Linked DNA regions of Homo sapiens. The protein of the gene in region 1 purifies or fractionates together with the protein of each later gene. This does not show direct contact. Each region holds a gene or a part of one and is shown on either strand. Other genes may lie near its edges.

Region 1 (3,827 bases):
TTGCTTACCTTTTTCAGCATTACTCTATCTTCAGGTTAATCTCTTCTCTGATTAATTCTTCATTTGTCTTTCTGGCTTTTCTTGAACTCACTCACTTAAATATTAGTATCTAAAGCTTATCTCATTATACATACTCTGTTTGCCCTCAGTTGCCACCTGTAAGCTAAGGACTCTCTTAGTCCACACTTTCTCACTTGCCACTCGGTACCTTCACTAAATAGGATCTTAGGTTACTGAAGTCCGAAGTTAAACTCTGTGTCATTTTCCCTCGTGCTTCCTTCATCCCCATTCTCTAAACATGAACAAACCAGTTCCTGGCCCCTGTGTCTCATGTTGTTGGAAGGATTGCATGGATTTGTCTTCTTGTGTTGCCTGTCTTGGTCATCACTGTTCATCCACTTGCCCAAGCTGAGATCAAGAAGACCTCCTCTTCCCATTGCCATAGCGGATAGTTCTTTTTGCTTTTTACCTCTCAGCTGTTTCTTGACTCTGAATCGGTATCTTTTCATCTTCATCCCCACCTGGACTAACAGTAGTGGCTCCATAATTAATCTCTTTGTCTGTACTGTTACCCTCTAGAAGTCTGTCCTGCTAGAATGAGCTTCCTGAAATATTTTCCTGAGCATGCCACTCTCCTACTTAAAATCTGTTACTAGTGTTCTGTAGCTTGGGTGTTAGAACTCTTTGGCATGGAGATTGTGAGGCCCTTTGTATTCTTTACCTCTGTTCTCCCAAACCCAATAAAGCCTCATCTCTTGTCACCCCTAACATGCACCTTGCATTCCACCACTCCAGATTAACGACACAGCTTCAGATCTCCGTGCCTTTGCACATGCTGTTCTTTCTGTTAAGTCACTTCTCACCTTGTCCACTTCTGAAACTCCTTATCTAGTCAATGAATTTTTCTCTACCAGCTTTCTCTTCCAAAGAGAGTTATGGTCACTATTCTGTGTTCCCATAGCTTCCTGAGTACTTTTCATCTTCTGTTACTTATTTTCTTGTCTTTTCTGCTAGTCTCAACCTCTGAAGGGGTTGGCCGGGTTGTCTTATTCACCTTTGTTTCCCTAGTGTAGCACTAACATGTAGCATAGAGAAGATAACCAGTAAATGTTTGTTGACTGAATGTTGAATTGCCTTTGTTTTTAACCCGTAGGGCCATACAGCACAAATCTGATTCCTTTATATGATGGCCCTTCATGTGTCTAATCACATTTCCTGTGTGCATGTGTGTGTGGGCCCCCCCTGCCCTTCCCCTCAAACCTTATCCTTTTTAAGTTAACCATCCTTAATTCCTTCAGCCACTCTTCACATTACTTAGTTTCCAGATCTTTTGTGATCTTGGTCATCCTCCTGGATATGCTGTAGTTTTAGCGTTTTTTTAGTTTTGTCATCTTTGGAAAGATCTTTGATCTTACTGAGTCATCTAAAAGAAAAGACTGATGGCGTTGCTCTGCCTGTCTGTTAGAATGAGGCACAAAAGAGATCATAGAATTCTGGGATGAATGCTCAAAGAAGATAAGAAATATGACTGATTTTCATAAACTGTATGAAAATTAATACATGATGTGAGATAGTGAAAAGACATACATGAAGGCAGAGGATATGGGGTATGACTTGTGGTTCTGCAACTTCACATACATCTGTAAGTTGGGGGATATAGGCAGGCAAGAATAATACCTTACCTACCTAACTGGATTGTCAGAAAAATAAAATGTAAAATTGTTCATAAACTATAAAGTACTGTACCTATGTAGAATGGCTTCAGTGTTTCTTTGTGAACTCTAAAAATATACTATATTAAATTATTTGAAAGTGTAGACTTTTTTTTCTTTTGGCTTAATTGATCATTGCTGGTTTCTTCCTTATGAGTTTTTCTCTACCTCAATGAAAATATTGGGGTAACCTTAATAAATCTCATTATATGGAGGCTGTATTTAATAGTCTTTTTTCCAAACACTTTATTTTATTAGTGACTTCCATGTGATTGGGAGCTATTTACCATATCATTGGTAAGTGTTTAGGTTTCTGGGTAAAATTGCATCAATAATTGGAGAACAGTCAGAGGAAATGACTGTAGGTAAGATCATATTGACCGGAGAGCTAAGTGAAGTGAGGAGAAGTTTTGTGTTTACGATTTTGAAAAATTAACTTTGTCATGGACATAGCTAGTGAAAGATGATTTTAAAATAGAGCTCAAATTTTGGATTCATTTAGAATGAAGAGAGTTTTTTTGATTCAAAAATTTTGTAAATAGTGACAAAAAAAGGCATTCAGACCCACTGGTATGATTTTGGTATATTTCTTTCTACTTACTGCCTATATGGCACATTATCTTTTTACATTGTAATCATGGTGTATGTATAACTTGAAATGTTTTCCTTTGACATTATACCATTTTTCTTTGTTGTCACATTATCTTTAAATCATTTTATTTTAAAAACTTATTTAAAAATACATAAATATATGTTTGTTTGCAGTCAAACAATATAAAAATACATAGAATAAAAGATTTTATCACTTCTACCCACAAATTCCATTTTTGAAACCCATAAGTAACCCCTTTTAATATCTTCCCTTGCATGTGCATATGTGTGTATGGTTTTATTTTTTTACAGATAAGCAGGATCATACTACCTATTGTTTTTTCAACTTGCTTTTTCACTTAGTATGTTGGAGATCGTTCCATGCCAGTACATACAGATTTTCCTATAACCATTATTTAAAATGTGTGTGTAATATTCCAGGGAGCAAATATAATAATAGTGGCTAATTAAAGTAGTAGTTACAGAACACTCCCTGACTTCCAGGCATTGTGCCATGCTCTTTCACATGTATTTAATCTTTTATACAGTCCTGTGAGGAAGATGACAATTTCTTCACATTCCACAGATGAGGAAACTGAGTCTCAGATATTAAGTGCCTTGCCGAAGGTCTCACAACCTTTCATGTGCAAGAGTTGGCATTGGAATCCAGGTTTTTGCAACTTCAAAGCCTATGTTCTTTATTCCTCTGCATTCTGCTGCTAATTGTGTATTCTCCTGTTATGGATATGGAAGTTGTTTTTACTGTTTTGCTGTGATAAAGAATGCTGTGATGAACATATTCTTTCTATATTTTGGATTCCCCCATATAGGATTGCTGGTGAAAAGTTAACTTGTGTGTGTATGTGGGGGTCAGGGTTCCATTTATTGCAGAAAAGTAATGATGTCATTAAGAATAATTCCATTGACTAATACTTTCATAACTTTTTGAAGGTTTTACCACTTTTAATTGTGAACTTTGGGTACTTAAGGCCATGTTTTAAAATGCAAGTTCATCTGTTAACTGAAAGGTTAAGCTAATTAATAAGTAATTTCAAAGGTCCCTTCTGCCTTCCAGGTTTCTCTTACTCTGAAGTCCATAAAATGGAACAGTGGGTTTATTTCAGCTTAATAACTTCTATTCAGTTATTGTGTTCCAACACTGGTCATTTCTGGTTTTCAGATGCAAAAGTCACCTTTTTTTCATTCGCTAAAGCTCAGGTTATTGTATATCTTTTTTTTGTAGTGCAAAGTAGGATATGATTGGAAAATCGTCTATGTTACTTGCAAATGATTGTATATGATTTTATTTTATATGTGTAAAAATAGCTTTAGGGCTGAGTTATATGGCTTCAGTGTTAAGTAATTGTGAGGTATTTTAAGATACAGTATTACCAGAAATATTAGATGCTTACTCTTAGGCTTGGAAGGGATGTAGAGTAAATTGACCAGGTTACAGAGCTGGCTTATGTAAACAGGTTTTGATTCCCTGTCTGACCCCTTTACATAAAGAAAAGGCAGAGAGGT
Region 2 (3,827 bases), on another chromosome or scaffold:
ATTTTTTCATGTTTGCTAAGTTAAATTTCTCCTTTTTGTAAATTACCTGTTAATATTCTTTTGCATATTTAAATTTATATTGAACATCTGATATAATAGGATTTTCCAAAGTCATGAGAAGCTGTTGCCTAGAACTGGAATGACCTATTTTATATTATGCGAAACCTGTAGAAAAACCTGTAGAACCTGGGAAGGAGCTATTCTATCCCTGTATTCCATAATCTAGTCTACCTGGCTAAAAAATTATAGCCAACTAAGAAAGGGTTCTACATTCTGGATTATTTCCTTTTTTAGTGTTGAGAAAGTTGGTATTTTAGCCTTATGGAGACTATTAGCCTTACTGTTGAAATGAGCTGGCAAAGCCTTGTCTCTTGATACTAGTATATTAGACCCTAGAGTGTTTCTGAGTGATGGTTCTTGACTGTATTTACTCTCATATATAAAAGCATTTTCTCTTTAAAATTTCAATGAGCAGGCCAGGTGCGGTGGCTCACACCTGTAATCCCAGCACTTTGGGAGGCTGAGGCAGGCAGATCACCTGAGGTCAGGAGTTCGAGACCAGCCTGACCAACATGCAGAAATCAAAAATACAAAAAAATTAGCCAGGCGTGGTGGTGCATGCCTGTAATCCCAGCTACTCGGGAAGCTGAGGCAGGAGAATCACTTGAACCCAGGAGATGGAGGTTGCAGTGAGCTAAGATCGAGCTATTGCACTCCAGCCTGGGCAACAAGAGCAAAACTCCATCTCGAAAATAAATAAATAAATAAATTCAGTGAGCACTCTAGAAATGTGGTATTTAATAGATCTTTAGATAGCATACTTCTGCTTATGGTTTGTTATATGTCACTCATTCTCACATTCTCCTCATTTTGACTTTAGGTAAGAGCGCTACTACAGTGACCCAGGAGAATAGCATGTTAGCCCACTTGAGGGTCTCCAGGCTTCTCTAAGTTGTTAGCCTTTGGTGATTCCCTGGAGGCCCAGCTGCTGCTTTCTGTTAGCAGGTTCTCATTCAGTTATTTTTATTTACTCATTCATTTATTTAATCTTTCATTCATAGATATTTTTTGATCCTTCTCTAAAGGCACTGACAACTTTGAAATGTCACATAGGCCACAGGTGTATTTGCCAACTGCGAAAGGCATTTTTCATCCCTTTTCCCTTCTGAATTGACTTCTCCTTCCCACCCACGGGTCCCATGCCCTCATGCTGCCTTCAGTTGTCTGAAGTTCTTAAAGTAACACTACCAACGCCTGCTTGTCCCTAGAATAGCCTGGGTCCAAAATTGAGCTCCCTCCTGGCCTTCATCGAGCTTAATGTCTTTGTTCTCTTGGTAGAGTGATATCAGTGGTAAATAGAGGAAAATATCCTTATGTTAGATATTTTTCCAGGGAAGCACATTGCTACTTCTATTGCTATCCATAATGCCCTCCAGTATGACAGAGGAACAGAAGTTAGCAACTTGGTACCTAATTTCTCAGGCATTGCTAACTCCAAAACAATTGTAGATTTAGAAATCTGCAACTCTGGATTATACAATAAAGACTAAGATATGGCCCCTTAAGATATCTTTTAATTTGGAAAAACAACAACATGGATTCATTTAGTAATATTGAACATCTTTTAGGTGCTAGATATTGGTGATTAAAATGTTCGAGACATTCTTTTTATCTTTGGAATTCATATTTAGTGGTAGAAGGACATATAAACATGCTATTTTCTGCCAGCATGTAAATTAAGACAACATAGACGTGAGAATGCTTAGAACCCATTTGGAATTGGGCTGGTTTCACAGGGAAGGTGGTATTTATGCTGGACCTGGAAAGGTTGACTTGGGAAGATTGAGAGCAGATTTTATGGGTTAAGATTCAGTGCAGATTTCTTTTCTCTTTCACTGAGAGCCTGTGGAAGATTATAAGGTGGGAATACTGTAGTCAGATCTCTGTTTCAGAAAGTGGCCATGTGAAGTAAATTGGAGTGTGGAGAGTGTTGTCAGGATGCCATTTGAGAAGCTATTATATAGTAATTCCTGGACTGTGTAGAGGGACTTTGGGATGCTTTTGTTAGAAGAATAGGATAAAGACTTGTCTTGGGGCTGTGCTTGCATCGTAAGCCCACCATTTGCTGTTATGATTATTGTCTACATGCTTACTTTTAACTAGAATAGGACAGTGACAGAGATTATAGAAGACTGAAGCCCTTTCTCCTGCCATCCACTCAGCAGCATCACAACTACCGGCAACAGGGTGAAAGGTCTGCAGTGGAAATAAGACTCAGGAAATGATTTCAATACATAATGCAGAGAGAATCAACATTACTTCATGTGGGGGGAAAAGAATGATAGTTGAGAAAAGGCTCACAAGAGACTTTGAGACTTGGTAGGATTCACGAAACAGAACAGTCTGATTCCAGATTTCAGGCATGTAGAATGGGAGGGCCATAGGCAAAAAGGTGGGAAAGTGCAGAAATGACATGTTCAGGCCCCAAGGGTGCCTCAGGCTGGCTGGAGCACAGTTACTAACGGGACATTTGGGTAGGATGTAGTCCAGTGAGAAAAAGTTGCGGCATTGGTTGGATCCAAAAATGTACATGGGTCTAGGCTACTCTGGGCACACTGCCTGTGGGTTACCCTGCTTCACAAGGAGCAGCCAGTCTGCAATAAAAATAAAAATTAAAACATTAAAACAAACAAAGTGTACATGATCTAGATTTTTGGACTTTATACTGGTGGTGGTTAGAAACCACTAAGTATTTTGGTAAGAATTTTGTGGTCAAATCCATTTTAGGAAGACAAATTTTTAGGGAGCATCAAGGATGCACTAGAAGCTTTAAGAGCCCAAAAAGCAGGAATTCTAGGTATGAGGAGGCAGTTGCAATTTTCTATCCTTGGGCTACAGAGAGCTCAGTCATGTCAATGAGAATCTGAGAAGTTGGCCAAGGCTACACAGATACAGTGATGCGGTGGGAGCACGAATCTAAGACTTGCATGCTCTAAAGGTCATGCATTTTCAGTTCTACCTTGAGATCAGAGAAAATGAAGATGAGGCGGGAGGGATTTGAGGATTACAAAGTCAAAGGTGGAATTCAAGGGAGCATTTTCCATCGAGATATATGTAGAAGCCAATTTTCAGGGAATTACAGAGGAACTGGGTAACAGTGAAATGGCTTCTCAAGTTATTATAATGATTGAATGGTAGATTAACCTGGTCACTTGCTATGCAGATGTTTCATTTCCTGTCTAACTGTCCAAAAATCCTGCATCTAATATAATTTTTGCTCTCATATCTACCCCTTTTCTGCTCAGATGATTACTCGTTTTTCCCTGTAGGCTCCCCAGTGTTATTCATGGCCCTGAGACAGTGAGTGTGGAGCTGAGTGTCAGTTGGTGACATGTGTTTGGTCTTTCTTTCCTCACTGGCTCATTCATGATGAATTTTTATTAATCTTGGAGAAAGGCAGAAGTTGACTTTTGAGACAATTCTACCATAATAAGCTTAGTAAAAACACTAGGACTAGCAAAATCTTTGTATCTCTTCATTTGTAAAGTAAAACTATAGGCTTCATTCCTAGTAAACTTAACAAAATAAAATTAGCACCAATAAAAATATAATAAAATCTATATTATGTGAAAATATTTTAGTACACAAATACTACTCAATAATTGGCTTAGAATTTGGGGGTTGCCATTGAAGGGCATTCCTCAATTTTTTTTTTTAATTCTAGCCTTAGAAATTTTTTCTTCTGGAATATGTACATCTCTAGTCATATTAATACCAGTTGTGTGCTTTGTGTTTTATTCCTTATTAGGGCATCATTGCAGAATACA

What was found.
Region 2: the proteins of NEO1 (region 1) and TBC1D9 fractionate together in Homo sapiens (co-fractionation; one large-scale study listed by BioGRID). This does not show direct contact.

The regions. Positions count from the first base shown.
Region 1 is NC_000015.10:73,055,427-73,059,253, forward strand, and holds part of NEO1 (neogenin isoform 1 precursor), read left to right. Parts: intron 1-3,827. UniProt on the Homo sapiens protein: Multi-functional cell surface receptor regulating cell adhesion in many diverse developmental processes, including neural tube and mammary gland formation, myogenesis and angiogenesis.
Region 2 is NC_000004.12:140,679,825-140,683,651, reverse strand, and holds part of TBC1D9 (TBC1 domain family member 9), read left to right. Parts: intron 1-3,808; coding exon 3,809-3,827. UniProt on the Homo sapiens protein: May act as a GTPase-activating protein for Rab family protein(s).